Linked DNA regions of Homo sapiens. The protein of the gene in region 3 binds, or shares a complex with, the protein of the main gene of each other region. Each region holds a gene or a part of one and is shown on either strand. Other genes may lie near its edges. The genes, in order: MYBL2, ARID4A, RBL1 and TFDP2.

Region 1 (7,391 bases), 6.6 Mb from region 3:
GGCCTTCTAAAGTGCTGGGATTACGGGCATGACCACTGTGCCCAGCCTGAATCTCTTTTGATGACCCATATTTTATGAGATACAATTCAAACTCTAGCATTCCCAGCTTTCTCACTTGAGGTCCAAGCCTTTCTAACTCTCCAGCCCAAATGTTAGCTTTGTAACATTGCATCCACTCAATTTAAATGGAATGTGTAGAACCCCTTCCATGAGTACCTACCAGAAGCCAAGCTATAGTAAAGGTCTGAAGCTTAAAATGTGCACAGGCTGTCCTTTCTCTTGAGAGAGAAATAAAATGGTGGAGGAAGTGTGATGAGGACAAGAATGATAAGGAGGATGCTCTGGAGGTGGAGGGGGAAGACTCCAGCCAGAAGGGCCATGTGATTCTACTTATCATCAATTAGTGTTTGGTGTCCAAGCTGGTGCTGAGCCCTGAGCATTTAATAAATTGATTTGACCCTTATCTTCCCAACACAGGGTCAGGCCTGGGGGTTGGGGCAAATTGTGGAATAACCAAATACCTGGAGCCTCCCTGTCCAAGGAGGGCGTGTTCAGGAAAAGTTTCCCAGCAGAGATAAATTCTGTATGTTACTAGTCCAGAGTCCAGGGACCACTCCCAGGTGTGGTTTCACTCGGGACACTGGGAATCCTCTCTCCAGGGGATATCTGTTGGTATGATGATAACTGGAGAGGAAATGTGTGGAGATCATCAGATTCCATCTGGCACTAGGGTGATCTCCCTGCTGCCTGACTCACAGCACTGACTCCAGGCTTCTTTGGCTCTGGGGCATTGGTTAACTGGCCCCAGTTCCAGGTTGCAAGTGCACTCTGCAGCTGTTCCCTGCCTCTTGCTTTGGGCAGATACCTTGCCCAAGCTGTCAGGTCCTGCCTCTCCCTGAAATGGGATGACTAATGTGTGGACCTCAAAGGATAAGAGTGAGGGCAGCTGAAGAATTACAGTAGTAATAATAGCTAACAGTAATATAGTTCTTTTTTTGCTGGGCGCGGTGGCTCACGCCTGTAATCCTAGCACTTTGGGAGGCCGAGGTGGGTGGATTGCCTGAGATCAGGAGTTTGAGACCAGCCTGGGGAACATGGTGAAACCCCGATCTCTATTAAAATACAAAAAATTAGCCAGGCGTGGCGGAGTGCTTCTGTAACCCCAGCTACTCGGGAGGCTGGGGTTATTGAGACGGAGTCTTGCTCTGTTGCCAAGGCTGGAGTGCAGTGGCACGATCTCAGCTCACTGCAACCTCCGCCTCCAGGTTCAAGTGATTCTCCTGCCTCAGCCTCCTGAGTAGCTGGAGTTACAGGTGCATGCCGCCACGCCCGGCTAATATTTTATATTTTTAGTAGAGATGGGGTTTCACCATGTTGGCCAAGCTGGTCTCAAACTCCTGACCTTAGGTGACTCACTCGCCTCAGCTTCCCAAACTGCTGGGATTACAGGCATGAGCCACTGTGCCCGGCCAATATAGCTCTCATTATGTGCCAGGAACTGTTTTTGGTGCTTTACACATATTAATTTATTTAATCCTATAATTACCTACAAAGTATAGTGATTAAGAGCATAGACTCTAGAACTAGACAGGCCAGGTTTGAATCCCTGCTCTGCCATTTACTAGCACTGTGACCTTGGGGAAGTCTGTGCCTCAGTTTTCCCATCTGCTAAAAGAGGATAATCCCAGTATCTACCTCATAGAGTTGTTACAAGGATTAAATGAGTTACAATTTATAAACAGAATGCTGGCTGGAAATATTAGCTGGGCATGGCGGCGTGCTCCTGTAACCCCAGTTACTTGGGAGGCTGATAGTTTAAAAACTATCTAAAATTTTGATAAATCCCATTTTTCCAGGTGAGAAAACTGAGGCACAGAAGAGTTAGGTAATTGGCTGGGCATGATGGCTCATGCCTGTAATCCCAGCACTTTGGGAGTCTGAGTCGGGTAGATCACCTGAGGTCAGAAGTTCAAGACCAGCCTGGCCAACATGATGAAAACCCATCTCTACAAAAATACAAAAAATAGCCAGGCATGCTGGCGCATTCCTGTAGTCCTAGCTACTCGAGAGGCTGAGGTGGGAGAATCATTTGAATCCGGGAAGTGGGGGTTGCAGTGAGCCAAGATCACACCACTGCACTCCAGTCTGGGCAATAAAGCAAGACTTGGTCTAAAAAAAAAAAAAAAGTTAAGTAATTTGCCTAAGATACCGCAACTGAATGGTGGAGCTGGGACTCAAACCCCAGGAAGTTTGGCTGTGGAGGCTGTGCTTTCAATGAAGTGGGCATGTCCACATTAATTACTTTATAAGGGGAGTGGGCGGGAGAAACCCTGAATTAAGTGATGTGGAAGCTTCTAGCACTTAAGATGTGAGTTAGTCTTCCTTCTGTGGTAAGTGAAGTTTGCAGCAGCTGGTGGCTGGACTGTCCCCAGGTGGCCAGCAGCTTCTGGAAGGGGGCTCTGAGGCCTGAACAGGGGCTAAAAGGCTGGGGTTTGATTTGGTTTCTTCAGCGTCCTGTCTCAGAGCTCATTTATCTTCCTCTCAGCACTGCTCCCAGGAAGTCCAGTGTGACTTGATCCTTGGTACTTGGTAAATGTCAATCTAATATAGAAAACCTTTGCTAAATCTCAAGGAAAGACAGTCTCACTGTCTGTCGCCCAGGCTGGAGTGCAGTGGCGGGATGACAAGGGCTTGAGCCCCTCGAACTCCTGGGCTCAAGCAATCCTCCTGCCTCTGCTTCCCAAGTAGCTGGGATTACAGGCATTCACCACCACAGCCAGGTAATTTCTTAATTTTTTGTAAAGACAGGGTCTCACTCTGATCCCCAGGCTGGTCTCAAACTTTTGGACTGAATCAGTTCTCCCACCTCGGCCTCCCAAACTGCTAGGATTACTGGCATGAGCCACTAAATCTGGGCTAATCTCTGGGAGTTTAAACCCAAGGTAAACAATTCAATGCAACAAACCTTTGCCTGGGGCTTCTTATGTCAGGTCTTCTACTGGGCCCTGGAGATACTGGTGTGCATTGAGAGGCCACCTGGACCTCAGGATGCTCCCAGTTCAAAGGGGGAAATGCAGAAGTCTACAGGCAGATTGTGGGCAGTGGACCCCAAATTAAATAGGAATCAGCCACGTGGGAGGGGCAGGAAGTGTTCCTGCCCTGGGTAATGGCTCAGGCAAAGGCAAAGAGGCCGTTTCTTTTGGCCAGGGCTGGGTGGTGGTCTGGAAGATCAGATAAATGTGATTGTGGAGTAAGGAATTTACCCTGAGGGAGAGGAGGATGGTTTTAAATTCTGGAAAGAGCTCACGCCTGCAATCCCAGCACTTTGGGAGGACAAAGCGGCAGGATCTCTTGAGCCCAGGAGTTTCTAGACCAGTCTAGGCAACAGCAACATAGCAAGACACCCCCTTCTCTTAAAAAAAAAAAAAAAAGCGCAGTGGCTCACTCCTGTAATTCCAGCACTTTGGGAGGCCGAGGCGGGCGGATCACGAGGTCAGGAGACCTATACCATCCTGGCCAACATGGTGAAACCTCGTCTCTACTAAAATACTAAAAAAAAAAAAAAAAAAAAAAAAAAATTGCCGGGCGTGGTGGTGTGCGCCTGTAGTTCCAGCTACTTGGGAGGCTGAGGCGGGGGAGTCGCTTGAACCCGGGAGGTGGAGGTTGCAGTGAGTCAAGATCGCGCCACTGCACTCCAGCCTGGCGACAAAGCGAGACACCGTCTCAAAAAAAAAAAAAAAAAAAATCAGCCGGGTGTAGTGGCGAGTGCCTGGTCTTAGCTACCCGTGAGTTGAGGTAGGAGGATCGCTTGAGCCTAGGAGGTGGAGGTTGCAGTGAGCTATGATCGCGAAACTGCACTCCAGCCTGGGCGACAGAGCAAGACCCTGCCTCTAAGAAAAATGAACAACAAAAAATAAAGTCTATTAAGGAGGGTCTCTTGGAGGCAGGAGAGGAAGCAGGGAGAGGCACAGGTAGGGTGAGGAGCCGCTTTAGGGTGCGGCTCTAGGGACCCAGTAGTGGCTTGGACTAGCGTGGGGGATTCCGCCCTGGCGCTTTCCCTGGCTGGCTCTCCCATGCTCGCGCCTCGCTCCCCTTCCTCGGTCTTCGCTATGTGGGATACTCCTGGGCCGCCCCGGACTGACACGTGAGCCAGGCCTCGGTCACATCCCGGCCCGCTCCACAACTCCGAAGTAGCGGCCGCCGCCCCTGTCCTGCAGCCGGCCCTGGAGGGTCTGGGCAGGTGCCGCCCCGCAGGCCCCGCCCCGCCCCGCCCCCTGGCTCCGCCCCTCACTCAGGCCCCTCCCCCGGCGCCCGCGCGCCAGGACTGGGCGGCGCCGACGCGCTTGGCGGGAGATAGAAAAGTGCTTCAACCCGCGCCGGCGGCGACTGCAGTTCCTGCGAGCGAGGAGCGCGGGACCTGCTGACACGCTGACGCCTTCGAGCGCGGCCCGGGGCCCGGAGCGGCCGGAGCAGCCCGGGTCCTGACCCCGGCCCGGCTCCCGCTCCGGGCTCTGCCGGCGGGCGGGCGAGCGCGGCGCGGTCCGGGCCGGGGGGATGTCTCGGCGGACGCGCTGGTGAGACGAGCCGGGAGGGCTTGGGCCCCTCCCCCTCCCTTTAACTCACCCCTCCCCCACCCAGATACCCCCGACCCTCCCCAGGCTCCCACCAAGCTGGGGTGTGTGTGTGTGTTGGGGGTGGGGTGTTTCCGCGGAAATGCTGCGTCCTGGGCCCTCTGAGGCAGGGGCGCGCGTAAAGCTGGGGGGCTCTTGGGCGTCCCTCGCGGCTCCCCAGGCCTGTTGGGCCTCGGAGCTGGGACGGGCGGGTCTCTTGGGACCCGGGCCAAGCCGTGCATGATGTCATTTTGTCTCCCGCCTAATTGCGGGATGGGGGTGGGCCGGCCGGTGTCAGCTGGCAGGGCCTTCGCCGGCGAGGGAGGCGACCCCTGGGAGCGAGAGGGAGTCTTCAAGTCCCAGCCAGTGGGAGACCGAGCCTGGGAGGCACTTGTTGCAGCCTAGTTTTGGGTCAACTTGGTGGGTGGGCTTTGCTCCTTAACATTCCGGGGAGCACAGAGTCCCCCAAGCCCTCTCCCCTGGACTGAGAAGGGTGCTGAGTTGGGGGCTCTTTTGTCTCTCCCACCTGGGTTCCGCGCCCCAGCTTGGTTCGGTTTGAGACCTCTCTTCCTGTTCCCACGAGGAGTTTTGGGCAGCTGGGGTTGAAGGTGCGGGGGAGAGAGAGAGTCCCTGGGGCAAAGGCAGGAACTGCGGTCTCCATTTTACTTATTTCCCCAGAGACTTAAGTGGCAGAGCTGAGCCCGGAGCCAGGTCTGTGGCTCCAGATCCCTGTCTTACACCTGTGCGCCTGGGGCCTGAGCTCCAAGCTTTTCAGCCTGCCTGGGAGACAGGACAGTGGGGTCCTGACCTCTTCCCTGCCTGGATCGCTGCAGCTCAGATAACCTTCGTTCCCTCTTTTTTTTTTTTTTTTTTTTTTTTGAGAAGGAGTCTCGCTCTGATGCCCAGGCTGGAGTGCAGTGGCGCGATCTTGGCTCACTGCAACCTCCGCCTCCCAGGTTCAAGCGATTCTCCTGCCTCAGCTTCCCGAGTAGCTGGGACTTCAGGCACGTGTCACCACGTCGGGCTAATTTTTTGTATGTTTAGTAGAGACAGGGTTTCACCATGTTAGCCAGGATGGTCTCGATCTCCTGACCTTGTGTTCCGCCCGACTCGGCCTCCCAAAGTGCTGGGATTACAGGCGTGAGCCACCTTGCCCGGCCAAACTTCGGTCCCTCTTTAGACGATAGCCTCATCTAAAGATGAAGCCTTCCATCCCTCTAGATTTTTGCCCTTTCAGGCTGAGGATAGGGATCTGAGCACAGGGACTGTGTTCCTCAGGCCCCACTTTCCCAGGCCAATGTCCAGGAAGAGTTTTCTGTTCAGGCGCCTATCAGACCCTGCCCTGGTTTTTTTTTTTTTTTTTTTTGAGGCAGGGTCTCCGTCTGCAGTCCAGGCCGGAGTGCTGTGGTGCTGTCATAGCTCACTGTAGCCCCAACCTCCCAGGTTCAAGTGATCTTCCCAACTCAGCCCGCTGGGACTGCAGGCTGAGTAGCTGGGACTATGGGCACGGGCCGCCACAACTGGCTAATTTATTTAATTATTTAGGAGACAGAGCCACTCTGTGTTGCCCAGGCTGGAGTGCAGTGGCACAATCTCGGCTCACTGCAGCCTCTGCCTCCCGGGTTCAAGGAATTCTGTCTCAGCCTCCCAAGTACCTGGGACTATGGGCACACGCCGCCACGCCTGGCTAATTTTTTGGATTTTTAGTAGAGATGGGTTTCACTGTGTTGCTCAGGCAATCCGCCTGCCTTGGCCTCACAGAGTGCTAGGATTACAGGCGTGAGCCACCGCGTCTGGCGTGTTTTATTTTGTGTAGAGATGGAAGGGGGCGGGAGTGGCCTCGCGTTGTGTCTCACCTCACTATGTTACCCAGGCTGGTCTCGAACTCCTGGCTTCCAGGGATTCTCCCCCACTTGGCCTCCCAAAGTGTCGGGATTACAGGTGTGAGCCACCTTGCCTGGCGCCATCCTGATTTTTTGTTCAGGAAGAGTTATTCCAGGAGTGACTGCCTCTAGACCACCCCAGGTCCTGGGCTACTTCTCCCATGAGGGGCTCAGTGGAGGAACCCCTCCTGTGTGAAGGATGGCAGCTCCACAGCCCTCAGCCCATTTCCTGGCCACTTGCTGTAACTCTCCTCTGCCCTAGTGCCCCACTTCCCGCTTTGTCTCTGACTCACCCCTGTCCTGGAGCAGAGCCCAGCACGTTGAAGGGCAAAAGGTAGGGTATGTTGGACCACAATGTGGTTGCCACCACTAACTGGACTCTGCTTTTTCAGCTGGGATTAGGATATGAGGACTTGCAGGTGTCTGGAGTTAGGAAGGTTCAGAGCCTGGCTCTATGAACTTGGCAGGTGGCCTCACCCCTCTGAGCCTCAATTTCCGCATCTGTTAAGGGGGATAATGAGAATGTGGGTGAAGTTGATGGCCAGCACATATGGTAAAGTATATCATCTCACAGAAATGCCCCAGCTGTCTGAGATGCTGACCCTATCAAACAGCATTGGAGGCTGGGTGTGGTAGCTCATGCCTGTAATCCCAGCACTTTGGGAGGCCAAGAGTTCAAGACCAGCTTGACCAATATGGTGAAACTCCTCGTCTCTACCAAAAATACAAAAATTAGCCGGGCGTGGTGGTAGGCGCCTGTAAGCGCGGCTATTCGGGAGGCTGAGGCAGGAGAATTCACTTGAACCCAGGAGGCAGAGGTTGCTGTGAGTCGAGATCATGCCACTGCACTTCAGCCTGGGTGACAAAGCGAGACTCTATCTCAAAATAAACAAACAAA
Region 2 (6,850 bases), on a different chromosome or scaffold from region 3:
GGAACATAAAACTGTGAATGTCATTACTATGCCTCCCTACTCCAACCTCAAGTCTCATTAAAAGGTTGTGTTTGAAGCATTAAGAATATTAAAATGACTTGCTTATTAATATCATTGAAAATTTGAAAAATACCCTAAATACTTGATTAGCAACCTTTCATTTTATAGACTGATGTCCTGATATGATAAAATGTTTTAAAGTTGTAATTCAAAATTATCAGTGATTAATAATGTTTTGTCTCGATACAAAATTTTTCAAAAATTCTACTATTATATAAGCAGAAAGATAAGAAAAAAACAGAAAAAATATTTCATATTACACATATCATAAAACTAAGTTATTCATTTATAGCTTCCTGAAATTTTTCAAATTAAAAGAAATATTGCTACTAATATTAACACTAACAATACATAATTGTTTATTGACATAGCCACATAAAGGTAACATCTTTTCATAAGGAAAGTATCATTTGGAAAATTCATTTGCTAAAAGCTGCACTTGAAAGGTTTTAAGTCTGAATTCAGCCGATGAATGCAGATATGAACTGATGGCTCCAGACTTGTAGGTATACCTAGTTTACCACACTAATCTTCTTAGTATAAAAAAATAAGCGTTACTAAGAAACATCTACTTTCAGCAAATGGACACGACCAGAATGATACATAGAAAGATGTAAGAAATGTCACTCTACCACTCATTTTAATTTTTACAGTAACAGGATGATTGCTATCTCAATCTGTCATTTTACCTTTTTTTTTTTTTTCCGGAAGTTAAAGTGTATCCATACAAGTTCAACTTAACATTGTTAAGTGCAAAGTTAACAGTGTACACTTTGGAGATACGTTTTGAAGTAGAAAATGATTTTTTGTTTTCTAATAAGTTTTCCCAAGTAATATTAAAGAAGGTTAAATATGTCATTTACTTCGAGAAAATAGAAAACCACGAGAAAGTTTGGGAAAATGCTATATTTCAGAGCTTAATATGCTGAAACAGTAAATAAGACAGGAATTGGGTACCTTTTAAAGTAAGTGCATTTACAAAAAATACAAATTGAATAGGAATGCTTTTGGCAAACAAAAATCTGACCTGAAACATTCAATGGCCACAGCATTCAAGAACGCTATATGAGATCCTTTCCCTTTAACCATCCACATACTGATATTTGCAGTCATCCTCAGTAGAATATGTATCTTTTTAGTATATGTTTTAAAATACTTATTGGAAAGATTTAACTAAAACTATTATTATACTTCAACTTCAAATATTTTAGCCACATAAGTTCATTTTACACACAGAAGAAATGATACCTTCATTACTTAATCCACGTATTCTTTCTTTTAGAAAATCGCATTGGCACACGGGAAGAAAAAAAATTTACAAAAAATCCCCCAAAGAACCAAAGCAGGACAAAAGCTTTACTTCTGCAAAGGTTGCTGCCAACACAGGAAGTGTTTAAAAATACTATCCGAATGGACAACAATTGAAAGGCTGCACCAGCCTTTCCAAAGTACTGCTACAGAGAGGGCCTAAACTCCGCATTTAGACACACAGATCATTTTTCACCCATTCAACACATCCTCCTATGCCGAAACTGCTGATCAGTAGGAACATCAATTTTGAGTAGCAAAACAAATGACATTCCACGGCACTAGCCTTAGGATTGGCAGTGTTCAGGGCGCGAGGATCGGGGCAGAGTTGACTCCACTTACCTTCATTTTTGTTGGTGATCTGTGGGGTTCCAGCTCAGCGAGCTATCTTCGCAGTCGCTAGAACTATGGGGAGGGGGAAAGACAGGCACAGACATAATCAGTCAACTGCGGGGAGCGACCAAGGGAAAGAAAGTAAACAAACGCCAGCGGGGAGGGGCAGAATCCTCACCAGCCAAGGGACAAGACCCCTTACGAGGGCAGCCAGGACGCAGGAGCTGAGGGGGCAGCGAGAACCCCACGAGCGCCAAAGGGCAGCCCGTTCCGCCCCGGAGCTCGCCAGCGGCCCACCGCGCCCCCGCCTCGCTGGCCACTTTGACCCGGAATGCTCAACTCGGAGCTCCAGGACAGATAGCTCCGGAAAAGGCCAGAGCTCCCTTCGGGCTTCCCCAGGTCCCCCGCGGAGACGACCGCCGAGCCTCCGCTCCGCGGTCCCCCGGATACCCCGACTTCGGCCCGCGCCCCGCCTCCGCCGCTCGGCCCCCTCGGCCCGCCCCGGGCCCGCGGTGGCGGCAGCGGAGTGTCACGGCGCCATTGCTCTCCTTCCTTCGCTCTGCACCATGTCAGAAAGGAGAAGCGCTCCTTCACCCAAAGGGGCAGGGGCCGCGGCCTTCAGCCGGGAGCCGCCAGAGCCCCGGGGGACCCGCGTGGGGGAGGGGGCGGGGGGCGGAGGGGAGGAGGAGGGGAGGTGGCCCGGACAGGGTGTGGGAGGGGAGGGGAGCCGCACCGCAGCAGCCGCTGCCTCCTCCCAGCGCCCGCCTCAACTTTTTGTACAGCCCAGAGAGGTATCAGCTCGTAGCCCCTCGAGTCCTGCCACGGACTCCGCAGAGGTGGACGCGCCGCGGAGTTGGGGGACGGCTCCCCCAAGCAGCCCGCTCTTCACCGCGCGGAAGCAAACTTAGCGGCGCGGCCAGCCCCACAGCCATTTTCCCGGGAACCCGAGGAAGCGGACGAGGAGGCGGCTGCAACTGCGGCGGCGGTTCCTGCAGTTGCTGCCGCTGGTCAATGGCTGGCCCCTTCCCTTGCGCTCGCCGTGCCACTTGCCTAGCATCCCTCTCCCCACCTCCAAAGCTTCCAACTGCACCGGGACCTCGGGCAGCAGCAGCTGCTGCTACTGCCACTTCGTCCATTCAGTATCCCCGGATTCCCCTCTCCCCACCTACCAACTGCGGGTGAAGTGCGCGCTGTCAGCTCCAGAGTCCTCCTCCCCTCTGACCTCCGTGGGCCCCCGTCCGGGCAGCACCACTCCCAGCCGCGGCTGCAGTTCCTGCGCCGGGTTCCCCACTCGCCCCGATTTACTGCCACAATCCACCAAATAACAAGCTGTTGAGCAGACTCGCTTCTACACGAACTCCTATTGGCTGCTCATGACGCCGAAGAGCTTCGGATAGGACCTCGCTACCTGCCGTCCTCATTGGATGTAGCTGTGAAACTTCATGGATTGGTGAGAAAAACAGCAGGTAGGACATCTTCCACTTATGATTGGCTTTTTCCGAAAACCAACTTTATTGGAGAGTTGGTTATTGAGTAAGCAAGTCCTGAGAAATGATTGGTAGAGACGACTCCGGATGTGCTTGACTGGGCACTGATTGGTGAATTGAGGGGTCAGGAAGAGCAGTTCGACACGAGGATTGGCGGCGGAGTGTCCCATGGAAACGGAACCCAGAATTGCAGCCAGGGGCTTGCACGGGGGCGGGGCAGGGTCTGTCCAAGGCGCTTGCGCTAAACCAGCTTGTCGGCGCCATTTTGTCTCGGCAGCGGTGGCCGTAGCTCCATCGCATTTTATGTTTCTGGCGAGAAGGGAACGGAGTTTTCATCAGGTAGATTGGTTTTTGTGCGGCCGTCCTCCACCGTTTCCTCCAGGACAGCACCTAGTCGTGGCCGGAGGAGTCTCAGAGCTGTCAGAAAGGTCAGTTGGAGGCTATGGTTGTCCGATTGACTGGGGGGATGGCGCAGCCCTAGCGGCACCGGCACCGGAAGTGAAGGGGCCGCAGGCAGCCATGGTAAACTTCTCCCTGCGGCGGGGTGGGGAGAAGGGGCGGGATGAATGGGGGCGAGGCTTCCTCTCCCGCCGAGATAAAGAGGTGGAGGAGAGGCAAACGTCTTTCTTGGAGGTTCTCTTTCGGGTTTTCGAGAATGTGAGAGATTTTCTGGGTTCTGTCCCACTGCAATCTTTCCTGTCTTTGGAAGTGCATTTCGGGGACTTGCCATGTTCTCCACCTGATTGGCACCAGCTGTGGGAGCCTTCTTAGTTAAGACAGGGAAGAAGTGGTTCTTAGAAACATCCTGCATGGGTAGAGGTTTCCGCGTGCTCCTCACGGGATAAAGCTATGAGGAAACTGGAGAAAGCGCTGGCTTTCTGGATGCTGAGGAATTTACTTGCCAGCGCAGACGCTTCTTCTGTGACCTTAGACAAGGGTCTGTCACTCTGCACGAGGCTTATGCTACTTTTTGAAAGCAAACAGTGGTTTTGCAGGGACTGAAAACATCTTAGACAAAAGGACGTCCCCGATAAGATAGACGTTGATCTTTTTCTGTTAACATCTTATATTCTGTTAAACGAAACACACATTTTTAAATAGCGGAATTGGAGTATAAAATTGACTAGTTTTATAGAATGGAGTAATTTTTAAAATGTGACATATCGTCAGTAATCCACGTGGACTAAATTTTCTCAGTAAGAAAACAGCCGAGCAGAATCAGTTTTTTATTCGTAACAGTAATTTTGCTCAAAAGTATTCATAAAAACGTGAAATGCATGTTGGCATTTCTAGTGAGTGACCTAGTCACACTGGATAGATCCTAATAGTTACCCTCAATACCTCTGTTTTAAACCCTACTGCTATATTGGTGGCGCCCATAACTAGAAAATGATTGTGTGACTTAACAATTACTGGGTTTTTTGGCAGTTGTGCTGAAGAAAACAGAACATCTCAGTGATTACTGAGGTGAGTCATAAAGTCTAAAAATCCTTAGAATTGCGGGGGACTACCTGGAAAAACTTTCTATGGATTAGTAAAGAAATACCAGAATGGGAGGAAGGGTAGTTAAAAGATGTTTTGTTTGGTCAGATTCAAATGAGTCTGTATAATTAGCTTTCTAGTGTAATATTTTAGAATGAAATCCCAAAATTAGGACATCCTTATGGACTTGTTTACCCATTTACGTGGTTCTCATTTCTGGACTTTGATATACCTCATGTTTTTGTTATAAAACATTATGCGTATTTTTGTGATTTCCTCCCCCCCACCCGCCTATTTAAAAAGTTCTTATATAGAAAAGATCTTGTAAATGGGAGTGTTTAGGAGTGAGGCTTTTTTTTTTTTTTTTTTTTTTTTTTTGGAGACAGAGTCTCTCTCTGTCATCGAGGCTGGAGTGCAGTGGCGCAATCTCGTAGGAGTGAAGCAGTTTTTTAAAAGACCTTATAAAACAATATATTACTGAATTTTCTAGGGGGTAAGCATCCATAATTCTACGATCAAAGTTTAAACTGTTATTATTGAATCCAAATAATGCATGGACATTTGGAAATTATTAAAAAGCCCAAAGAAGAATACAAAAATGTCTTCCCTCCTCCAAAAGGTAGTTACGGTTTACACTATAGTTATATATTATACAAAAGGCTTTGTCTTTTTTGTTGGTTTTGTTTTACCAAATATTCTAGTGTTGTTCATTACCGTCTATTCTTTATAGAAAACATTGGGAATATTGGAAATATCTTATCGTAAAGCATCTTTTATGTCTTCATAGTGTTTTGTGGGATAAATATATCATAATTTATGTAACGTGTTTATTTTTCTATAATGGCAGTAATATGTCAGTGAATATCCTTGTACATGTTTTGCAAAATATTGTGTCTAAGAAGGTCGTTGCAAAAGTAATCGTGGTTTTTGCATTATTGGAATTTGCCATTTGATGTTGGACTACGTTGTTAAATAAATGTGGTTATGTTATACATCATTTTAATGGGCATTTCTCGCTTTGTTCTTTTGGTAATGACTTATTACTCTCTGTTTATTTCATGTTTATTTTATTTTATTTTTGAGACAGAGTCACGCTCTGTCGCCAGGCTGAAGTCAGTGGCACCATCTCGGCTCACTACAACCTCTGCCTCCCAGGTTCAAGCAATTCTTCTGCCTCAGCCTCCCGAGTAGCTGGGACTACAGGCGCGTGCCACCACACCAGCTAATTTTTTGTATTTTTAATAGAGCCAAGGGGCTTCACCATGTTAGCCATGGTGGTCTCGATCTCCTGACCTCATGATCTGCCTGCCTCGGCCTCGTAAAGTGGTGGGATTACGGGCATGAGCCACGTGCCCAGCCTTCATGTGTATTTTAGACAATGAAAATGATGTTAGACAAAAAAGCAAATTCGAGCAGTTTTCGTTTTTGAGTTAAAAATGGGTTGTAAAACAACAGAGACACCATATCAGCAATGCATATGGTTCAGGAACTGTTAACTTACAGTGCAGTGGTGATTCAAGAAGTTTTTTTGTTGTTGTTGTTTGAGATGGAATCTTGCTCTTTCAGGCTAGAGTGCAGTGGCATGATCTTGGCTCACTGCAACCTCTGCCTCCTGGGTTCAAGCCATTCTGCCTCAGCCTCCCCAGTAGCTGGGATTACAGGCACGCACCACCATGCTCAGCTAATTTTTGTATTTTTAGTAGAGATGGAGTTTCACCATCTTGGCCCAGGCTGGTCTCGAACTCCTGACCTCGTGATCCGCCCGCCTTGGCCTCCCAAAGTGCTGGGATTACAGGCTTGAGCCGCTGTGCCTGGCAGTTTCAAGAAATTTTGCAAAGGGAAGGAAAGTCTTGAAAATCAGGAGCGTAGTGGCTGGTCGCCAGAAGTTGATAACTACCGGTTAAGAGCAATCAGCAAAGCTGATCCTCTTAAGGCTACTTGAGATGTTGCCGAAGAACTCAATGTGGACCATTCTACAGTCCTTCAGCATTTGAAGCAAATTAAAAAGTGAAAAAGCTCGATAAGTGGGTGCCTCATGAACTGACCGAAAAAAAAAGTCATTGTTTTGAAGTGTCCTTATCCCTTATTTTTTGCAACAACAAACCATTTCTTGGTCAGATTGTGATGTGCGAGAAAAAGTGGATTTTATACAACAACTGGTGATGGCCAGCTCAGTAGAT
Region 3 (6,885 bases):
CATCTGGAGCTAAGAAGAGGAACAGATACTATCATTTATAATTGGTGAGATATACAAGCTATAAGAAGAACTGAAGATAAAGTGTTGTAGGAGAATATAGTGCAGTGAATAACTGATTTTGACTACAGTTTAGGGAAGGCCTCACAAAAGGAGACAAAATTTGTAAATCAATAAAAATGTAAGCAGGAGTTTGTCAGGTAGACTAGAGAGGGGTAGGGATTGGAGAAAGACTTCTTAGGAAGCATGAGATATATGAAAATGACTACTCCAAATACCTTTAAAAAATTGATTTTAAAAAAAGAGGAAAATAAACACTGGATAGAATAAACACAAAATTTCAGTTCATACATTTGTGCTTTCTAAAGCAAGCATTGGGCTGGGCTCGGTGGCTCATGCTTGTAATCCCAATGCTCTGGGAGGCTGCGGCAGAAAAATCACTTGAGGCCAGTTCAAGACCAGCTTGGGCAACATAGTCAGATACTATCTCCACAAAAAATTGAAAAATTAGCTGAGCACCGTGGTGCATGCCTATAGTCCCAGCTACTGGGGAGGCTGAAGCAGGAACATCACTTGAGCACAGAAGTTTGAGTTTACAGTGAGCTATAATTGCACCACTGCATTCCAGGCCTGGTCAAAAGAGCAAGACCCTGTTTCTTTCCATTTTTTTTTTTTTTTTGAGATGGAGTTACACTCTTGTGCAGGGTGGAGTGCAATGGCGTGATCTTGGCTCACTGCAACCTCTACCTCCTGGTTTCAAGAGATTCTCCTGCCTCAGCCTCCTGAGTAGCTGGGATTACAAGTGCACGTCACCATGCTCAGCTAATTTTATATTTTTAGTAGAGACGGGGTTTCACCATGCTGGCCAGGCTGGTCTTGGACCCCTGACCTAAGGTGATCTGCCCACCTCAGCCTCCCAAAGTGGTGGGATTACAGGTGTGAGCCACCGTGCGCCCGGCCAAGACCCTGTTTCTAAGGAAGAAAAAAAGAAAGAAAAAATAAATAAGTAGAGCAAACATTGAAGATGTCCTATTCAACTCTGCCTAACTAGAGATTTAGCTCTCAACTTTTCCTGGTGTTGGGGGTGAGGGGAAATATTCCAGGCAGAGGGAATGGCATGGATATACCACAAAACTGGGAACAAACTTGTCATATTCAAGAATCTGAAACAGGTGCATGCCTTGACCATAGTTTGACACAGTAAATGCTTATTCAATGACAGATGGTGTGACCTTGGGCAAGAGAGACCAAATCAGACCTAGGATGTCAGAAATGCTTTCTCAGGCTTTCAAAAATCAATCTGTTTTCAATTGAGACGCCATTCATTCTAATCTCCCTTACTTTCTTATTCTTCCCACAGCTCTCCAGTCATGCCACCCACGGATGTGGACCATTGTCCTTTACCCAGTCTATCCAGTTCTGAAGACACTTTTTTCAGGTACTACTCCTTCATATATAGGCACACATACAATCGACACTTTTCCAACTCTATGCCTTTGAACCCAGCAATTATTTCACTGGGTGGTGAGTCAGTGGTGCACCCTGGGAGTGGGTCCAGCGCCCTTGGCACATGAAAGCCTTTGAACATGAGGCCAGTGGTGCTACATGAAATACACTCCATCACAATTCTGTCTACACTGGGCTTATGCTCGTCTGGGTTTCTTTCTCTGTTTTTAGATAGAGTCTTGCTGTCACCCAGGCTGGAGTGCAGTGGTGTGATCTCCACTCACTGCGGCCTATGCCTCCTGGGTTTAAGCAATTCTCCTGCCTCAGCCTCCCGAGTAGCTAGATTACAGGCAGGCGCCACCACACCCAGCTAGTTTTTGTATTTTTTTAGTAGAGATGGGGTTTCGCCGTGTTGCCCAGGTTAGTCTCGAACTCCTGGCCTCAAGTGATCCGCCCGCCTTGGCCTCCCAAAGTGCTGGGATTATAGGCGTGAGCCGCCACGCCCAGCCTGGGTTTCTATATTAGAATAATCCTAGGCAAGACAACCTTCTGAGCCTTGCCATTATCACCTGGAAAGCAGTCTAATACTCATTGCCATGCCATGTTCACAGGGCTGTTGCGAGGATAAAATGCAAGAATGATGGGGAAAAAAATCAAGTAATTATAACTGACATTTGTTTTATTCAGAGCCAGACACTGATGCAAAGCATCAGGACGATGCTCTGACGGAGGAGGAAACGTAGGGCTGAGATCAGCTTCGTGTGCACATTGGCTTTGATCAAACTGCTGCACAGCGACCGGCAGCTCCACCCTGGTGAAGCAGAGGGTGGAGGTTAAACGGCTCAGACCCTGGGTCTGGCTCCATCTCTAACCGTGTGACCTTGGGCCTGTAGCTTAACCCGTCTAGGGCTCCGCTTCCTCTTGCGTGAAATGGGGATCACAGAAGGGGTTCAGACGGAACTGAGGGTCCATTTAAAGCTCTGGGCAGTGATGTCTTGGCATGCAGTTCATTTTCACTTTACCATTATATTTGTTCTTACTGATTTAAGGGCAGCACCATGACTTTTGTGGCGCTTGGCGGGGTAGAGGGAAGTGTGGTCAGGAAGCCTGGGGTCTGAGCGGCGCGGGACCTAGGCCGCTCCTTTCCTGAGCTTCAGTTTCCCGCCTCAAAATGATGGGTGGATTGGCTGAGCTACACCCACCTTTCCCGCCCCTCGGCGCTTGGCTGCGCAGCGACCCTCCTAGGTGGGGAAACTCCCACCACCCCATAGGCCGAGGAAGGGGCGGGGCAGGGGTGGGGCCTGGCGAGGGTAGGGTCCGGCCGCCCCACCTGCTGCCGCTCACCTCTAGGCTGTAGTTGCCTCGGATGGCAGTAAAGTCGTCCAGGGCTTCGGCCGCGCTCCCCTCGTCCAGGTTCAGCTCCTGGCACAGGGCCTGTAGCGCCTCCCCGGCTGCGGCGACCACCGCCGCCCCCTCAGCGTGGGGCTTGTCCTCGAACATCCCTTCAGGCCCCGCGGGCTGCGCGCCACGGCCCCCGACTTCTTTCTCCCTCCCAGGCGCGCTACCCACAACCACCTGCGCCAAAGCGCGCGAAAATCTGCAGCTGCGGGACGTGTTGTCATCCACCGTCTGCCTCCGCTTTTCTCCTCAAAAAAAGTCCGTTTTTCCTCCGGAGCTCCTAGCAGTCCCTCCCCGGAAATGTGATAAGAAGATGTACCTCAGATTCTGAAAGACCTGTCCTTGGCCCTTGGCTGGTCGCGGGGGGCCCAGCCGGCGGGACAGAAAAAGAGCGGAGGGATCCTCAGCCCGCGCGCAGAGCCTGCTGGGAGGTGTAGTCCATCTCTTGGGAGATGAAGCCCGCGGCCTCCCCCTGTCTTCCTGGTTAGGCTCTTGGGTTTTGGGGCAGGGCTGGGCTGCCTACTGCGAGGTGGCCTCGTGCAGCGTAGTGAGATGCCTCCTCTATCCACGGGCCCTGGGTTTGTCACTGTCCCTGGGCGCCAAACATAATCTGAGCTGTACCCCTTGAGTTAGGAGATGGAGGCTGGAAGAGAAAAAAGTAGCCCCTGGACGAAGAGGGGCCTCTTGGGACTCTCCCCAAAGTCCTAGTGCCCAGTGAGTGGTTCGCTAAATGACAGAGGGGAAGGATTGGTGACGGATATTAGAAGACGAATCCTCATCTCATGCTAGTCGCTAAAAGAGGCAGGCAGAGAAGACTGCAGTAAATGAGGCAGGAGAATAGGGTCTGGAGGCAGGGAACCTATGGCTGTTTCACGTGACTTCTTAGAACTAAATTGAAAGGAAAACCCCAACTTTCCACGCCTAAGTAACAAAAGAACCAGAGGCTGTTCCCTTGGACCTTTTCTGCATGGCAGATGGGAAATTGGCTGTCTGCAACAAATCACACTGAGCGCCTTCCAGTCTTTGTTTGCAACTTTGTAACTTCACTCCAGCCTCTGAACGGTTGCTGTCCACAACCAATCAGACTGATGGCGGGAGAGTCTTCCTTTGCATAGAAGTATAATTTTGTTAACTTCACCCTGGCCTCTGATTGGTTGCTTTCTGCAACCACTCAGACTGATTGTGGGCTACCACTTCAGTTACATCAAGAGAGCATAAAGTGGCCAATGGGAAACTTCTAGAGGGTATTTGGACCCCAGAAGATTCTGTGTCTGGGCCCTTGAGCTGCTGCGTGGGTTCGCTTCCCCACTATGGAGTGTACTTTTGTTTTCAATAAATCCCTGTCTTCGTTCTTTTGTTGTTCCATTATTTGCTTTGCCTGTAATCCCAGTACTTTGGGAGGCCGAGGCAGGTGGATCACTTGAGTCCAGGAGTTTGAGACCAGTCAGGCCAACAAGGCAAAACCCCGTCACTACTAAAAATATAAAAATTAGCTGGGCGTGTGGGTGCACTTGTGTAATCCTAACAACCTGGGCAACTGAGACATGAGAATAAAGAATCGCTTGAACCGAGGAGGCAGAGGCTGTAGTAAGCCAAGATTGCACCACTGCACTCCAGTCTGGGTAACAGAGTGAGACTCTGTCTCAAAAACAAACAACTGAGGACACATCTGTCAAACCCAGCCTCACCTGCATGCATTTAAAAAAACCAAAAATCAATATGCCCTTCCTTATATTGGTTTTATTTTTTCTTATTATCCCAGGACATGCCCATTTAACCCAAAATTGAGCTTTTCTGAATAGAAAATGAAGTATGGAAGGCCGGTTGCAGTGGCTCACACCTGTAATCCCAGCACTTTGGGAGGCTGAGGCAGGCGGGTCACCAGATCAGGAGATCGAGATCATCCTGGCCAACATGGTGAAACCCCGTCTCTACTAAAAATACAAAAATTAGCTGGGCATGGTGGCGGGCGCTTGTAATCCCAGCTACTTGGCAGGCTGAGGTAGAAGAATCGCTGGAACCTGGGAGGCGGAGGTTGCAGTAAGCCAAGATCGTGCCACTGCACTCCAGCCTGGTGACAGAGCGAGACTCCGTCTCAAAAAAAAAAAAAAAAAAAAGAAAAAAGAAAATGAAGTATGGGTAGTGAAATAGATTTACTCTGCCCTTCAGTTTTGAGCCAGATACACATGAAGGTTGTTTCTATTTTGATCCCATTGTGTGATAGCCTCTATGATTAGCCTCCCTGTTGTGGTTTAATATTTCAGAGTTCTCCCAAAGCATGTGGTTGGAACCTGATTATGACCTTTAGGGATTCCAAGACTAAAAAGATTATAGTGTGTACCCTTCCAAATGTAATTCAAAATATATGCAATTCTAAATCACAAAATAAGTGTAAGAAAGTACAAGAAAGTTCTAACTAATTTTCCCAAGATGTCTCATTTTGAAATTCTTAAATTTTTTTTTCTTTTTTTGTCCTCCAGCTTTGCTATGCCCTAAGCAGAAAATCAGTCTGCACTTGCCCCTCTCAGGACAAACTGCTTGTCTAACCTTCTATTAAAAAAAAAAAAAAAAAAAAAAAAAGCAGTTGATATTTGTGGGGGAGGGGCAAGACCTGACCTCACCATTCTTTTTTTTTTTTTTTGAGACAGAGTCTCACTCTGTCACCCAGGCTGGAGTGCAGTGGCAAGATCTCAGCTCACTGCAACCTCTCCCTCCTAGGTTCAAGCAATTCTCCTTCCTCAGCCCCCCAAGTACCTGGGACTACAGGCACACGCCACCATGCCCGGCTAACTTTTTTTTTTGCATTTTTAGTAGAGACGGGGTTTCGCCATGATGGCCAGGCTGGTCTTGAACTCCTGACCTCAGGTGATGCACCCGCCTCAGCCTCCCAAAATGCTGGGATTATAGGCGTGAGCCACCATGCCCAGCTGGACCTCACCATTCTTAATGTTCTTTTTCCTTGGAGGAAAAACTAAAGTGGTGATCTTTAAGCTGGTTCTGCACTGTGGAAGTAGTGCATTACAAAGATTAATAAAGCCTCTCTACCCACAGAAGGGGGAAAGGATTTGCATACAATCTTAGAAAAGCAAATGTAAATGGCTTTTAGATGTGAAAAGATGCCCAACTTTCTTTCTTTCTATTTATTTATTTATTTATTTATTGAGACGGAGTCTCACTCTTGTTGCCCAGGCTAGAGTGCAATGGAGAGATCTCGGCTCACTGCAACCTCTGCCTCCTGGGATCAAGCAATTCTCCTGCCTCAGCCTCCCGAGTAGCTGGGACTATAGGCGTGTGCCACAACGCCAGGGTAATTTTTGTACTTTTTAGTAGAGACGGGGTTTCACCATGTTGGCACAATGGTCTCAATCTCTTGACCTCGTGATCCCACCCGCCTCGGCCTCCCAAAGTGCTGGGATTACAGGCGTGAACCACTGTGCCCGGCCCCAACCTTTCTAATAGGAAAAATATATATACAAGTTTAAACCGGTATAAAACCATATTTTAATCTATTCAATTGTCAAAAATCCAAAAGTTTGAAAATGTTCTAGTGACTCCCCATTTCTTTCAGGGTTAAGCCAAGCTCCTTGTCCTGGCCTACAAGGCACTAAGGGTCTGGTGGTCCCCTGTCTAACTCTGCCTTCATTTGCTACTCTCTCCTTTCTCACCCTACCGTAGTCATACTTGTGATTCCTTTTGGCTACCTTTTTTTCCTTTAATTTTGAAAAATGCAAACTCAATTTTTTATGTAGTTGTTAACCCCAATGTTTAAAAAAAGTAAAGCATTTCATCCAAATTACTAACTAAAAGATAATAGCTAAGAATACCTGAACCAGATATCAAAGAATTGGGGGTAATGGGGGCCGGGCATGGTGGCTCATGCCTGTAATCCCAGCACTTTGGGAGGCTGAGGTGGACAGATCACTTGAGGCCAGGAGTTCGAGGCCAGCCTGGCCAAAATGGCAAAACCCCGTCTCTACTAAAAATACAAAAATTAGCTGGGCGTGATGATGCTCGCCTGTAGTCCCAGCTACTTGGGAGGCTGAG
Region 4 (7,454 bases), on a different chromosome or scaffold from region 3:
GATCTGTGCATTACCAGTTGTTAAATATTTTGACTGTCACCCCTGTTCATAATCTAAGACCCTGTGGAAAATTTCACATGTACAAAGGAGACAGGAATATTCATAGCATCAGAATATGAAAAAAGGTAAAAACTCCCAAATGCCTTTCAGTAAGAGAATGGATTATCTGCCGGGCATGTTGGCTCACATCTGTAATCCCAGCACTATGGGAGGCCAAGGCAGGCGGATCACTTGAGGTCAGGAGTTCGAGACGAGCCTGGCCAACATAGTGAAACCCCGTCTCTACTAAAAATACAAAAATTAGCTGGGATTGGTGGCGCGCACCTGTAATCCCAGCTACTTGGGAGGCTGAGGCAAGAGAATCACTTGAACCTGGGAGGCAGATGTTGCAGTAAGCTGAGATTGCACCACTGCACTCCAACCTAGGCAACAGAGCAAGAGTCTGTCTCAAAATAAAATTAAAAAAAAAATAATAAAATAGAATGGAGTATGTAAATGTTATTTTTGCATTAGTGAAAATGAATGACCACCCATCAAGATAGATGACCCTCTTAAAATGTTGAACAAAAAAAGATTGGCAGATGAATAATAAATTTTATTCTAAATTTATGAAGTTCAAAAACATGAAAAGCTAAGCAATATATTATTTGGATATACATACACGTGTGTTAAGATTATAAAGAAGAACATGGAAATTATACACAGAATTTAAGATGTTATTTTGGAAAGGGAAAGTTGTGGGGACACACTGGTAGGGGGCACATGAGGTTTCAATGGTGTTAATAATATGTTGCTTAAGCAGGTACATGAGGGTTTATCATGATTCCTCATATCTCACATTTACTTTATATTTTTTAGGGTGAATAAAATATTTTATCCTAAAAATATTTTAGGTTTGATATTAAGGGGTTACTTTTATTAAGGGTGACTTTGAAACCTTTCTACTGCTCTAATGCAGTCATTCCAGAAAACTGGGGAGAGGTTGAATCCCTCCCTGAGGAAATTCCGAGGCTTCGCCTCTACTCTGTCCTATTAAGGTGATTAAACTGTACATAACAGGATTGTCTCTAGAAGCAAGACCCAGATTTAACACTTATAAGTGTTATTTCTTTTGTCAGTCACTAGATGGATTTGGTGTGAAAAGAAGATGCTTTAAAAAAAAATCTGAAACTGTTCTGACAACTGCAGATCTTTTCATGTGATAAAAGGTGTCACTAAGGACCTTCTTACTCCAAGTGTGATTTTTGGCTGCTGAGGCAGCACCAGCATCACTTGGAAGCCTGTTGGAGATGCAGAATTGAAGCCACACCTTACAGACTGAATTGTAAGATTCCCTAAGTGATTACTGTGCACCTCAAGGTTTGAGAGGCAGTGGTCCAGGAGTCTGGTACTTCCACCTGCAAAAGCAGTATCCAGTGCCAGCAGAGGGGGCAGCACGTGGAAATGCCTCAGGTTTAACTGTAATGGACCCGTCTTTTTCACAACCCTCTTTGTGTTGGCTATTCTGTGGCCCGCATATTTCTAAATAGAGTAGACTTTATTATACCTCTCTCCTCTTTCCAAATTTGCTGGGCTGTGGACTCTCATCTATTCAATAAAAACATTGAACTTCCATTAAGCACTGAGGAGATGATAGTGAATAGAATGATATGACTTTGACTCTAGAAGCTTACAGTCTAATGGGATGCAGGTAGCAAGTGAGTAATTACAAGTTTAATGAATGTTGGAAAGTCAAAGAAAATTTTATGGGAAAACAGTTGGAGATGGGGACTCCGGGGAAGCTTTTCTGGAGAAAGTGTTGTTTAAGTTTAGATGAAAAGGCATGTGCAGGTGAGTTGTGGGTGAACTGGGGGATTGTTCCAAGCATAAGGAATGCCAATGAATGGTGCTCTTTGGACATCTGTTTGTATTGCCAGTGCCTTGCATAGTTCTTGGCATACAATAAGTGCTTAATAAATGTTTGCAGAATCAATAAATGTTCTGTCACATTTCAGATGTCTACTCTCTGGCATTGGAGATGGTGGAAACTTTATTTTCCTTTTCAAAGGAAATAAGATCCCTTAATGGGGAAATAAGAAAGAAAGCTGACTGTTGTGCAAATTGCTAAATTGGAACTATGAGTGGGAATGAAAAATTGATTTACATGAATTTTCTTCCCTGTAGCAACTTGACAATTTATTCTGTTCTGGAGAATTCTCAGTTTTTGGCTTAAAAACCAAGCTGTTCCTCCTTATTCTGAATTTCTTGGCCTGCTGTGAAACTAACATTTACTGTCTTTTACAACATGCCCTGATTAGGTCATGGAAATTCACAACTAAATCAAACTAGGATATGGAAAATTTGAAACTTTCACTGCCCATTTTATGTAATGGCGTTGGAAGGTGTTATAAAACATTGACTTTTAAATCTTTATTTTCAAAAGCTATATTATACGATGAATATAATAATTGCCATCATTTATTGAACACTTACTACATGCATTACATAGCAAAATCCTCATACTACCTCTGCAAGAGAGTAAGTTGAACCATATGAAAATTGCCCAATATCAGCAATTTCATGTGGTTCAACCTAGTATCTTCAGACTCTGACCTATAAAGAGGTTAGGGAATCCCTCATAGCCATAACTTCACTCCAAATTTAGTACTGAATCTTTTAGTACTATCTTTTATAGATAAAGAGATCCTAAGATAGTTACAGCTCCTCTATGACAGCGACCCCTTTCCCTACATTAGCCCAAGCACTTTGTGTGTGTACTTCCATCATGGTTATTTACGCATTGAATTGAGGTGGTTTACAATCCATTTCCTCTGCTACACTGAGTTCCTTGAGGGTGGATGTTTTGTCTGTCTTGCTCATTTTTGTATACGTAGTACCTAGAGTGAAAAGTATTTGTTGAATATAACTTTAAGTTTTCTTAAAGTTATATTTTTTGTGGAAACTAAATTTTTATTGATTTGTTACTGGAGAATGTGAAGTAATCACTGGGGTTTTTGCATTTTAGAATCAGTCAGTGGAGTACTGCATTTGACATTCTTGGACTCTCAGGACTAGTTACATGCAATTATGCATACAATTGTCTCTCCACCCTGCCCCAGAGAAAGATCTGAAAGTGCTCTCTTACCTATCTCATCTCCTTTAGGCATTTGCTTAAATACCACCTTCTCCGTGCTACCTTCCCAGATCACTCTATTTAGGACTGAAGCCATTCCTCCAACACCTCTGCTTATATTTTTTTCCCATAGCACACATACCAGCATGTAATATAGTTTTTGTTTTACGTATTCTTTTGCATATTATCTTTCCCATCCTGCTAGAATGTAAGCTCCATGAAGGCAGGAGTTTTTGTCTCTATTTTGTCCACTGATGTCTCCCCATATCAAGAATAGTGTTTGGGGCCGGGCGTGGTGGCTCACGCCTGTAATCCCACCACTTTGGGAGGCCCAGGCGGGAGGATCTCTTGAGTCCAGGAGTTCCAAACCAGCCTGGGAAACATGGCGAAACAGCCGGGTGTGGTGGCGCGGGCCTGTAGTCCCAGCTACTCGGGAGGCTGTGGTGGTAGGATCACCTGAGACTGGGAAGTCAGGGCTCCAATGAGCCGTGATCCTGCCACCGCACTCCAGCCTCGGTGAGAGCAAGACCCCGTCTCAAAAACAAACAAAGTGGCATATAGAAGATCTATAAGATTTGACTGGAGTAAAATGAGAAAGATCTAATCGTTTTAATGCGCTGTTCACACGGGGTTTTTAACTTCGGCACGAACGAATGAACAAAATCTTTTCATATGGAACCAAGTGTACGGGTATTTGGGGTGTGTGCAGTTTCCGCGGGACAGAATGACCTGTCCTGGTTTGGGTATTAACTTGCCTTGATATTGAAGAACCTCCACATTCCCAGTGGTCTCTAACTCATTGTCTGAATAATTTCAAGGTGTCCCACAGTTGGCCCCACGCATAGCCTCAATCACGATCACTCGCCCCCCTGTCCCTTATTGATGCTCCCCCAGGGCGACCCCGCAAAGGCCTGGGGACCGAATGGAACTGCCCCAGTCCCCCTCCTTCCAAGAGAGCTGGGGTTTTCTGGCTTCGGGGTCAGTTGGAAAAGAGATTCCCACCCAAGTCGCAGGGTGGGAGTAGGGGGGATGAGATAGGAGTGATGAAGGAAGTGTGTCTAAAATTCTAGGCCTCAGGCCCGCAGCTGTCCCTGGAGGCGGCGGGGAAGCGGGGTGGTCGGGTCCTGCGGAGGGCTCCCAGGGAGGCCACAGGGGGAACCAAGGGGCGGTGGCTGAGTGCACGAGTCCCGCCCCTCCATCTGTTGGCCCCCTACTCTCAAAGGGAAGCCTGGGGGCGGGGTTTGTTTACTCCGTGCACGCACTGCCGGCCCGGCCAATCCGTGGGGAGCGGCGCCAGGCGTCGCACATTCTGAGGGCCAATCGGCGCGCACTGTGCTGCTCCGCCGCCAAAGCTCGCGCGGGGGAAGCGGGGCTGTAGCTGGGCAGGGAGAGGGCGGACGAAATCGGTAGCGATCTCGGCTGCGGCGCTGCCGCAGCTGCCCGGCCCGCGGGGCGCGCCCTGACCCTTCATCTTTGGGCAGGCTCGAGGGCGCGCGCACGGTTGGCGTTCTGGGGCCTCAAACTCCTGGGCCTTGACCGGGCAGGCCGCGTCTCCCCGGGTGTGAGTCCACCGGGACCCGGCCGCCGCCTAAGCGCGGGCGCCACAGAAGCGGCGGCGCCCGAAGACGCGCTCCTGGCTCGGCCCGACAGCCTCGCTTGGCCGCCAGTTCTTCTGCAGCCGAAGGCGGTAAGGTCTGGGGCGAGGGCGCGGGCCCGCGCGCGGAGGGCCTTTGGACCCGGCCGGGCGCGTTCCTGGGTAGGTTTCCCTCCCTGCGCACAGGGGCCCCCTTGTTCCCCCACGAGTCCCATCTGTTTAGACCTGGGTTCTCCAGGCCTGGCCGGGTAACCCGTGAGTGTCTGGGCCAGAGTCGAAAGCAGAGGAGGGTCACCCTCTTAGTGCATAGAGCAAATCGGGGGAGGTAACGTCCCTGAGTCACGCCTCGTGGAAGAGGGGAAGGGCTGCTTTCTACTTTCTCGTTCTCTTCAAAGAAGGATGGCTTCTAAATCTGGTTTTCCGATTTTTCCCTTCTCCTTTCATGACTCACAGGCCTCTGTGTCCACCAGGTGTTTTGTTTGTTTTTAAAGAGTTTCTAAGCTTTGTGTGCTTGGAAGAACCTCATATGCCCCATAAAGGAACTTTTCTCTGAAGTAGAGGATCGCTTTTTGGGCCCAGACTCCTTTGAGAAAATCTGGAAAGCCAAGGTCTGTCTTCACAAAGAAGTGTAAGGGTTTTCCTAGGATCTCGCTGAGAGACAGTACAACGAAGTGGATGAGCGCCCCAGTCTCTCTTACCAGCCTGTGCTATCTCCCATTGTGTGATCTCGGTTTCTTCATCTGTAAATTAGATGCATCCACCTATTCGGTGTGTTTCGGGGAGTGAATGGACTAATGTATGGAATGCAATCGTAAGAAAATCCTCCACGTATTAAATGCCTTGCATTAGTTAGGCACTTTTATTATTGACTGCCATGGATGCTGGTTTAGAAAAAGACCCTATATTATTTCCCTTTTAGTGTTGAGACAGTGAACGGGCTCATTCCTTTTCCATATTCACTGCTGAAGCTGCCTTTGAGCCCATGAATACTTTTATCTTTTCCTCATTCCATCTCAGAGGGCACAGACTCCCTCTCACTTATTTGCTTTCTTTCAGTAAGGCTCTCTTTTAGCTCAGCCTTCTCCTTCCCCTGTCTCCCCGAGATCTGAGTTTTGTGTCTTTTCATTTGACTTGCACAACCTACTTTTTTTTTTTTCTGGGCCATGTGTTTTCTCTTCATGGCTTGAATTTATCTTCACCTAATAAATAATTTACCTGTTTTTTTTTTCAGCTCGTGAATATATATTCATCTATTTTCTATATGGCATAATCATGTCCCTGTCTCTCTTTAAAAGTAGATATAAAAATAGTTTAATTGATCTATATTGCAGCTTCCTTTTCCATTTCATTGTTTAGCCTGTTATTTAGCTAAACTTTATCACTATCAGATTACTGTAATTAATCTTTAATGGCAGTGTCCATTCTCAGACAGCACCAGGAGAAAAATCAAATGCCTAGACCCCAGATTCTGTCACACTTGTGTACTGGCTCTGGATGTGTTTGTTATTTATTAGAACATCTTGTGCCTGTAACTAGTCTAGTCTAAGAGTAGACATGGTGTCTGTAGCGTTGTTCTGGCTGTGCAGTTGCAGTTTGAGCACTGTGGCCCTTACATTTGTTAATAAAAGGTTCAAGACTTACTAAACTCTTACTTTTCAGTTCTCTTCATTTCTAGGTGTTTAAAAAGGAAAGCTGAATTTTTGCAGTGTGTAATACTTCATATTCTCATTTTGTGATCATGTAATTCCTCCCACCCTGACTCTTGTGAATGTGTAGTCCAAGTGGCACATGGAAGTTTTTCTCTGGCAGCTAAAATTCTTAACTGTCTGAGCCGTGTGCCCTCAATATAACTGATGAAGTGGGATGTACTTCCTTGTCATCATCTTTTAAACTCTTATTGCAATATGTGTTATAATGGATCTCAGAAGAAACTAGAAGGCATAGATTGAGAGTTCTTTTAGATCATAGAATTTTAAATTGTAGTGGATTTTAAAGAGAATCAAATACACTCACCTCTTCATACTTAAATCCTTTCCGTTTTAATCTGGGATACATGACTCTAGGTGTGCGGCATGAATAGATATGAAAGTAGGCTTGTGAACTCTTGGAAATATTATGCAAAATTATGCATATTTGTATATTTTTTGGAGAGACTATTTATAGTGTCATAGTTTCTGAGGCAAAGATATTTGATCAATTCTTTTTTTTTTTTTTTTTGAGACAGGGTTTCTCTATGTTGCTCAGGCTTGTCTGGAACTCCTGGGCTCAAGTGATCCTCCCACCTCACCCTCCCAAGTAGCTGGGGTTATAGGCACACACCTCGCCATGTTTGGACAACTCTAATTTTTATAAAATTATTTCTTTCACTGAACTAGAAATTGTGTCCTCACTGTCTCTTCTGTATTGTGGGTTTTCAACTATTTGAAGATACTTATATTCCACTGAGTGTTAGAAAATATTCTCAGTCTTTAACCTCTGCTAGTGACTTTTGTGTCATTGTTTTCATTCACATCTCCTCACAGAACTCATAGCCCACTTGTGGATTTGTTTAGTTCATCCACATTCTTCTGACAAGCATGGTACCCCAAATTAGGTATTAACTAGTATAGAAGACTAAGTTACCTCTCTAATTTTAAAGCATGTACTTTAAGAGTAGACTTGCTTCTTTGGCAACCACATTACACTGTTACTTTATAATAATTTACTAGTTAAGAAGATTAACTTTGGGGCTAACCTTCCTGTGTTTAG

The links.
Region 1: RBL1 (region 3) and MYBL2 share a complex: the UniProt entries of both Homo sapiens proteins name them as parts of the DREAM complex.
Region 2: the proteins of RBL1 (region 3) and ARID4A are in contact, whole or in part, in a crystal structure (PDB 7SMC), measured with the Homo sapiens proteins. Residues at the interface, in NP_002886.2 of Homo sapiens: Tyr849, Ile850, Lys853, Val854, Thr860, Phe861, Gln862, Met865, Lys866, Arg869, Tyr879, Arg880, Asp929, Leu930, Ile931, Tyr934, Asn935, Val939, Ala946, Leu947; in NP_002883.3 of Homo sapiens: Leu957, Val958, Cys959, His960, Glu961, Val962, Asp963, Leu964, Asp965, Asp966, Leu967.
Region 4: RBL1 (region 3) and TFDP2 share a complex: the UniProt entries of both Homo sapiens proteins name them as parts of the DREAM complex.

The regions. Positions count from the first base shown.
Region 1 is NC_000020.11:43,662,730-43,670,120, forward strand, and holds the start of MYBL2 (myb-related protein B), read left to right. Parts: upstream 1-4,384; 5' UTR 4,385-4,554; coding exon 4,555-4,574; intron 4,575-7,391. UniProt on the Homo sapiens protein: Transcription factor involved in the regulation of cell survival, proliferation, and differentiation. Transactivates the expression of the CLU gene.
Region 2 is NC_000014.9:58,294,721-58,301,570, reverse strand, and holds the start of ARID4A (AT-rich interactive domain-containing protein 4A), read right to left. Parts: upstream 3,017-6,850; 5' UTR 2,871-3,016; intron 2,381-2,870; exon of another isoform or gene 1,880-2,380; intron 1,774-1,879; 5' UTR 1,717-1,773; coding exon 1,711-1,716; intron 1-1,710.
Region 3 is NC_000020.11:37,092,986-37,099,870, forward strand, and holds the start of RBL1 (retinoblastoma-like protein 1), read right to left. Parts: upstream 3,013-6,885; 5' UTR 2,944-3,012; coding exon 2,788-2,943; intron 1-2,787. UniProt on the Homo sapiens protein: Key regulator of entry into cell division. Directly involved in heterochromatin formation by maintaining overall chromatin structure and, in particular, that of constitutive heterochromatin by stabilizing histone methylation.
Region 4 is NC_000003.12:142,146,528-142,153,981, reverse strand, and holds the start of TFDP2 (transcription factor Dp-2), read left to right. Parts: upstream 1-4,437; 5' UTR 4,438-4,799; exon of another isoform or gene 4,800-4,868; intron 4,869-7,454. UniProt on the Homo sapiens protein: Can stimulate E2F-dependent transcription.